2 linked regions of the Homo sapiens genome follow. The protein of the gene in region 1 interacts with the protein of each later gene in a pairwise test. Each region holds a gene or a part of one and is shown on either strand. Other genes may lie near its edges.

The links.
Region 2: the proteins of CHRM2 (region 1) and GJC2 interact in a two-hybrid assay, tested with the Homo sapiens proteins (one large-scale study listed by BioGRID and IntAct).

Annotation. Positions count from the first base shown.
Region 1 is NC_000007.14:137,011,562-137,015,380, forward strand, and holds part of CHRM2 (muscarinic acetylcholine receptor M2), read left to right. Parts: intron 1-3,258; 5' UTR 3,259-3,304; coding exon 3,305-3,819. UniProt on the Homo sapiens protein: The muscarinic acetylcholine receptor mediates various cellular responses, including inhibition of adenylate cyclase, breakdown of phosphoinositides and modulation of potassium channels through the action of G proteins.
Region 2 is NC_000001.11:228,156,358-228,160,176, reverse strand, and holds the end of GJC2 (gap junction gamma-2 protein), read right to left. Parts: intron 2,438-3,819; 5' UTR 2,419-2,437; coding exon 1,099-2,418; 3' UTR 351-1,098; downstream 1-350. UniProt on the Homo sapiens protein: One gap junction consists of a cluster of closely packed pairs of transmembrane channels, the connexons, through which materials of low MW diffuse from one cell to a neighboring cell. May play a role in myelination in central and peripheral nervous systems.

The sequences.
Region 1 (3,819 bases):
AACACTGAGGGCAAAATTCCCCATCTAGTCCATTCACACTCAAACACGAATTGCCTCTGGAAACACCCTCACAGACACATCCGAATTAATATTTTATCAGGTTTCTAGGTATTCCTTAATTCTGCCAAGTTGACACCTAAAATTAAGTTCACAAGTCCACCACTTGTCAGCCTAGTGTTCATATACATCTCCTCAAACTATATGTTATTTCCAAATAAAAGCAGTAACAAGGTGATGGTTCCACCTAACATGATGCAGGCCAATGTGATGAGACCATCCTGCATGCAAGTGAAATGCCAACCCCTTTTCCAGAATTCAGCTTTCAGGATTTCAACATTCAGAATTTTAATCTTTCAGGATTGTAATTTTGGGGATTTTGGACCTTAGCAATTTAGATCCTCATCAAACTAGTTGATTTTGAATCCCTACTTTTCAACATCAGTGTTATTCATTATTCTCCAGAGGAAATTATCAAAAATCTTTTAAAAACTAGAATATAAGTCCTATGCTTTATCAAAATTATGAATAATTAAAATGCAGAGTCAATACATTCATTTTTTGTATTTTTCAAACTAAGTGAATTAATATTAACATTTCATGAAACAGATACACATATAGCTCAACTCCAAACTGTCCATGAATTTATCTAATAAACAGAGAAAATGCTGCTTATAAGCAAGTCACAATTCTGATCTTACAGTTAGCTGAGCTATTAAGAAATTGTTGGAATAAGAACTGGGATAATAAAATGTTTTTGTTCAAATAAATTACCATGAATATACAATTGTATGATTAATTGCAAAAAAGGATTGTCAAAGGGAAATCCGATTAAAATAATTCAACTGATCTAAGTTGCATTCCATTAACATCATTTCCCTGATTAAACTCTTCAATATTTCCCAATGAGCTGCAGGCATACATATGTAATATTACATATAATCACCTTTTTGCTTAAATAAAATTATATTCTGTAATAATCTATGTCTCACTATGATTATGTCATCTTCTAACTATATAACTTTCCACAGCAATGCCAGGACACAAATATCTACCTGTTTTACTAGCCGCATAATATTCCATTGTAAGAGTATTCCATAATATATTTAACCAATCCCTTGTCAATGAATAGTTTTAATATATCTCGGGATTTTTTTGCTATAACAACATTTCTGAGTGAACATACTTGAGTAGACCTCTTTGTACATTTTTATGACTCTATCTGAAAGACACATTCCTAAATGTGGCATTCCTGAGACAAGTGTTTCTTAATACATTTTTATAGATACAGATTTAAAGTTCTATAGATATAGATACATTATCCTTCGTGGTGATTATCCCGCTAGTCCCACCAAAAGTATTCAACACTACCATTAATACTACGGATGGAAAATTGTTTTTCACTGTCTGGATTTGCATCTTTAAACTGTGGGGTTGAGTATCATTTCATATGTTTAAAAGTCATTAATGTCTAATTTTTCTTTGATTGAACTACTACATCAATGTTTTAGATTATTCATCTTTCATCTTTCCTTTTTTGCCAAAACTCTATTATATTAAAGACATTGGATAATTTTCTATCGTGCAATTTACAAATATTGTTTCTCAATTGTTATTTTGACTTTTTTGCTCTATGCAAAAATTTTAAAGGAATATGCAACAGTTACATATATTTTCCTTTCTGGCTTCTGAATTTTGGGTCTTATTATATTAAGGCCAAATCCCATTATTTGGGTTTTGTCAAATAAAATACTGGAAAACAATTGACTTTCCAAAGCAGAAAAAATTATTTTTTTAAATGTTATTTGTGTTATGAAGTTGCTTACCAAATTATTTTCTACATGGATTTCAAGGGCAAACCACTGCCCATTTCTTTGTAATTAATAGCATCCAAACTAATCAATATTCCCAAATTTTAATTTCTCAGCAATGCTTATTTTCTGACAGCTCACAGCAATTTTTTCAAAAAGAGGTGGAACTTGGGCTAGTTTCTGCTTCAGATGCTGTTTCTCCAGAAATGTGTCATATCTCTTTGATGAATTCTTAACTTTCTTTTCTAAATCCCCAATATACATTTTCCATTATGAAAGATCACTCAATTGTCATCAGACTTCAATGATATTATCTCAAAAATGATGATTATGTGTTTACTTACACACAACAGGATAGGGAAACAAGAAGTGCATTCAGGTTTAATAATTGCTTCTTCATCAACCCATGTCTGCCACCAGGCAGAGACCTTGTTTTAATCATCATTGAACGTCCAGAACACCTAATTAAGAGAAGCTGCTCAATAGATATGTGAGCACAAAGTGAAAGAATGAATGACTGAACAAACTGGGATTTCATCTTTCTGAGCCTTAGTTCCTTCTACAAAACAAAAAGTTTGGCAGAAAGAATAGTAAGATAATAGATTTGATAGTGGTTTGAAAAACAAAACATTCAGAAAAGTGGTATTTTCTCCCATAATTTTGTCTTCTTATTGATGTATTAATTTGTATGTCTATTCCAGAAATCTCTTTATGCTTTGGAAAGTCTTATGCATAATTTTGGCTTTTTCAGTTCAATATGCATTTAATAAGCAAATATTCTTGTGTAAGATATGGAATATTGGAAATGCTGATTATGTAATACTGATTACAAGTATGAAATAAAATAGAGGCAAGAGGAAAATAATTCTCATCTAGGGAGAGTATACTGGCTATTAAGTATTATTATATTATCTTTATTTTCACCATCCTCAGTGTTATTGTGAAAAAGGCTTAGAGCTTCCATGAGGAAAGGCACTGTTAACTATAAAAGTCACACATTCAATATTATACATTCTATGCTTTCTTCTATAATTGTGTCCTCTCACTAATTTACTAATTTTTATGTCTATTCCAGGAATCCCTTGATGTTTTAGAAAGTGTTGTTTGTAATTTTGGTTTATTTAATTCAATTTATCAGTATTATGCTAAGTTTCATGGATTGATGAGATATATAGGTAGATAGGTAGGTAGATAGATACTCATATCTGGATAAGGACATATTTAAAACATTACTGGACTTCAAGTTCATTGCCAGCCTGAAAGGTCCTTTTGAATCCTCCATTTGAAGGTCTTGCTTTTTACATGGGGAATTGAGGCAGGTAGACACAGTAATCATGCAGGGGAAGGGAGATTTGGGAGAAAATAATGTGGTTTAAAAGGAGAAACAACATTATGTATTTTAAACCAATGTTTATATTATGTTTGTTAATTTTATTCTATTTCCTTGCAGGTTTAAATGTTTATTTGCTACTTGGCTACTGATTAGAGAACGCAAAATGAATAACTCAACAAACTCCTCTAACAATAGCCTGGCTCTTACAAGTCCTTATAAGACATTTGAAGTGGTGTTTATTGTCCTGGTGGCTGGATCCCTCAGTTTGGTGACCATTATCGGGAACATCCTAGTCATGGTTTCCATTAAAGTCAACCGCCACCTCCAGACCGTCAACAATTACTTTTTATTCAGCTTGGCCTGTGCTGACCTTATCATAGGTGTTTTCTCCATGAACTTGTACACCCTCTACACTGTGATTGGTTACTGGCCTTTGGGACCTGTGGTGTGTGACCTTTGGCTAGCCCTGGACTATGTGGTCAGCAATGCCTCAGTTATGAATCTGCTCATCATCAGCTTTGACAGGTACTTCTGTGTCACAAAACCTCTGACCTACCCAGTCAAGCGGACCACAAAAATGGCAGGTATGATGATTGCAGCTGCCTGGGTCCTCTCTTTCATCCTCTGGGCTCCAGCCATTCTCTTCTGGCAGTTCATTGTAGGGGTGAGAACTGTGGA
Region 2 (3,819 bases), on another chromosome or scaffold:
CCCAACCTGAGGCTCTGAGTGTTTTCTTTCTTTCTCACCATCAGTGCACTCCACCCTGCCCCACCCACCCCTGCCCCCGGCACGCTGCCTGGCACCGAGCAGGCCCCGAGTGTTGTCTGACAAGCTACAGGGGCTCGCCTGTGACCATACTCCCCTGCCAGTCCCTGGGGAGGGGTCTCCTCTCCCAGCCAGCCTGGAGCTAAGCCATGTCTCCCCATGTGGTAGCCATGCACACACACCCATGCATACACATATAAGCATACACCCAGACATGCACACAATGCACATACATGTGCATGCAGTCACACACATAGCCACACGTGCACATGCATACACATGCACACACAAGGTTATAAACAAGTTAGTTTTATTTTACTCCCTTTCCTCTTGAGGCTGGGTCTGAATTAGGGAGGAGGACAGACAGGCCACAGGCAGGAACCCAGAGCCCCATTCCCCCAGCATGGCCAAGCCCCCAGGCCCTGACCACCACCCATTGGGTCCAAGCTGCAAGGCATATCAACATCTTTGCAGAACTTCAAGCCTCCCAGAGGAACGGAAGGCCGGCATCGCAGAAGCTCAAAGAGGGTATGGTCCTGTCCACCCCAGGCTCCCAGCTCCCAGTCTGTCTCAGTTTGGGGCTGGGAAGGGGAGGGCTGAAGAAGGAGCCCCATTTGCTGTTGCAGGGAATGGGGACACGCACCCCCGCACCCCCACCAACTGATGCCCATACCAGGCACCCTGGGCCCTCCATGGGTTGCTGCAGGGAAGCACAAAGGGGAGAGCTGGCATCCCAGAGGACCTATTCCAGCTCAGGACAGGGGTGGAGTCAATGCCCCACTCCCCCTGGGGTTCAGACCACAGCAGAGGGCCCTTTCTGGCTCCTAGGCCTCTCTCCACCCCACCTTGGCCCCAGTGGTGACCAAGCCAGGGCACTCCTCTGCCGCTTTCAGCCCCTTCCCTGAGCAGCCTGGCTGCCCCTCTGGGCAGAGTCTGCCTGAGGCCACCGGCTAAGGAGAAGGCTGAGGAGAAGGGGTCGCAGGTTTCCACCGGAGCCCCCCAACCCTCCTCCTCCCTGGCCCAGCTCGCAAGCCAGCGCCCTCAGATCCACACGGTGGTCTTCCCGTCCCTGCTGCTGGCACTGCCCTTCTCGGAGCCAGCCCTGGGCTTGGCTCCTGGCCGCTCGTGGGTGCCGGGCCGGCCCTGCTCCCCGACAGTGCCCGCAGAGGTAGCACTGCCCGTCCGGGACGCGGGGGCGCCTGCTCTGGGGGGCCCCCGGGAGGCCGCAGGGAGGCCGACGCACGGCGAACTGTCCCGGTCGCGGTCCCCAGCCGCTGCCCCGTCGCGCAGCGCCTGCAGGGCCAGGTTTGCCAGGTTCTGGTCATGCGCCCGAGCGCGCTCGGCCGCCCGCACCACCAGGCTGTAGTCGGGCGGGCAGGCCAAGCCAGCGGCCGCCGCAGGGAAGGCGCAGGGCGGGGGCCGCGGCGCGGGGGCGGGGGCGGAGGCCGGGGGGCCGCGGCGGCCGCGCACCGCGTCCTGCGCGCTGCCCAAGCCCAGGTGGGCCATCTCACAGAGGTTGAGCAGCAGGCACAGGCAGCTGACCACGTACATAACCAGCAGGAAGACCGTCTTTTCAGTAGGGCGCGACACGAAGCAGTCCACCACGTGCGGGCAGGGCTGGCGGCTGCAGGGAAAGAACGGTCGCACCTCGAAGCCGTACAGCAGGTACTGGCCCACCAGGAAGGCCACCTCGAAAGCTGCCCTGGCCACCAGCTGGGCCACGTACACGCGCATCAGGCCCTCCCGCTGGATGCGCCTCCGCCCATCGTGTTGCCCGGTCGGGCCCGGGGTCCCTGCCGCCTTGCCGTCAGCGCCGACCGCCTTAGTGCACGCCTCCTCCGCGCCTGCCTCCTCCGCTTCCTCGCCGGCGCCCTCGGCTGCCCCCGTCTCCTCCTCCTCCTCCTCCTCGCCCAGGCCCAGCATGGGCTCCTCCTCGCCCAGGTCGGCGGGCTCAGGCCAGCCGGCGTGCGGGGGCGGCAGGTGCGCTCGGGGCGCGCGGCGTGGCCCCGGGCGGCGGCGGAGGGCGCGGCGCCGCTCCTGCTCAGACGCACGGGCCAGGCGGTGCACGGCGTAGCCCAGGTACATGACCGAGGGCGTGGAGATGACCACAATCTGGAAGACCCAGAAGCGCACGTGCGACAGGGGCGCGAAGGCGTCATAGCAGACGTTGTCGCAGCCTGGCTGCCGCGTGTTGCAAGTGAACTTGGCCTGCTCGTCCGAGTAGATGGCCTCGCCGCCCACAGCCGTCAGCACGATGCGGAAGACCACCAGCACCGTGAGCCACACCTTGCCCACGAAGGTGGAGTGGTTGTGGATCTCCTCCAGCAGCCGCGTCAGGAAGCTCCAGCTCATGTTGGTCATAGGGGCGGGCGGGCGGGTCCTGTGGGGCGGGGTAGGGGTCAGCCAGGGGCCTGCACTTAGGAGCCCGCGGCGCTCAGAGCCGGGGCTCCAGGCTTGCCTCGCAGCTGGCCCCTCTCTGCTTACACAGTCAATGACGTGGAGCTTACCGCCTTAAACGGAAGTGGAAGCCCCCACCTGATCCGGCCCCTGCTCGTGCAGATGCAGGGCCCCAGCTGGGTGAGTTGCCTTCATGAGGCAGATGGGGACACTGAGGCAAGCACCACTCAAGTGTGTGGGGACTGGTGGTCTCAGTGTCCACTGCACCCATGGCCACCAACCCAGCCCCAGCCGCATCCAGGTTGTTGGGGAGGGTCCCACAGAGTTTCAGCATCCAAAGGGTCTCCCCAGCCTGCCTAGCCACTCAATCCCTCCTGGCCCCTCCAGCTCCCTAGCCCCCAAGCCCCTGCAGCCCCATCAGCCCTCAGTCCTTCACAGCCCCCCGTGCCTGCACCACCATCAGCTCCCAGACCCCAAAGTGCCACCAGTCCACAATCCCCATAGCCCCTCGGCCCCCAGAGGCCCTGCTCTGCCTCCCTCCACACCCTGGACAGGGGCGTCGGGGTCCCTCCACACCCTGGACAGGGGCGTCGGGGTCCCTCCACCTCCACAAAATCCTCCATCCTCCCTCCAGCCCCCGGCTGGTCCCGCTGCCCTTCTCAGGTGCCCAGGGTCCCAGGGCTCCGCCCGCCCAGTCTAGGTTCCTGGTCCTCCATGGTCTCAACCCAGACCATCTCTAGCTGGGGTCAGGATGAAGCCAGTCGTCCGTCCAGGAGGGACGGTGTCCAGCGAGGTTATAGACCCAGTGATGTGAGGCCACACTCAGCACCTGCGACCCTCAGAGACAGCTATGCCGCAGACCAGCCAAGCCCAAGGTGGGCAAGTGCCCAGGAAAGGGCTGTGCAGCAGGGCCTGTGCTCCAAAGAAGGAGAGCTCCTGCAGCTCCCCTGCCCACCCTCTGCTGGCGGTTGCCCCAGGGCCAGTACCTGCTCCTGGGTCGCTGAGGCAGGAGACCCCTTAGCTCCCTCCGCCTCTGGCCCCCTCCCGGTACCTGGCCTGGGAGGCAGCAGCGGCAGGTGTGGGACCAGCAGCAGTCGCTGGTGAGGCTCCCGGCCTCTTTATGCAGCTGAGGCCTCCCCACCCGGGGCAGGAAGAGGGGGCAGTCAGGGTTCCTGGGGAAGTGGCCCTGCTTCCTCACATCTGTGCAGTACCCCTCAGAGCCACACACATTCACATGTGCACACACACTCAGATACATACCCACAGATTCACATGTGTACACATGCACACACGTGCACATGCATGAACACGCACATGCATATGCAGATACCCATGCACACACATGCATACACATGTACACGTGCA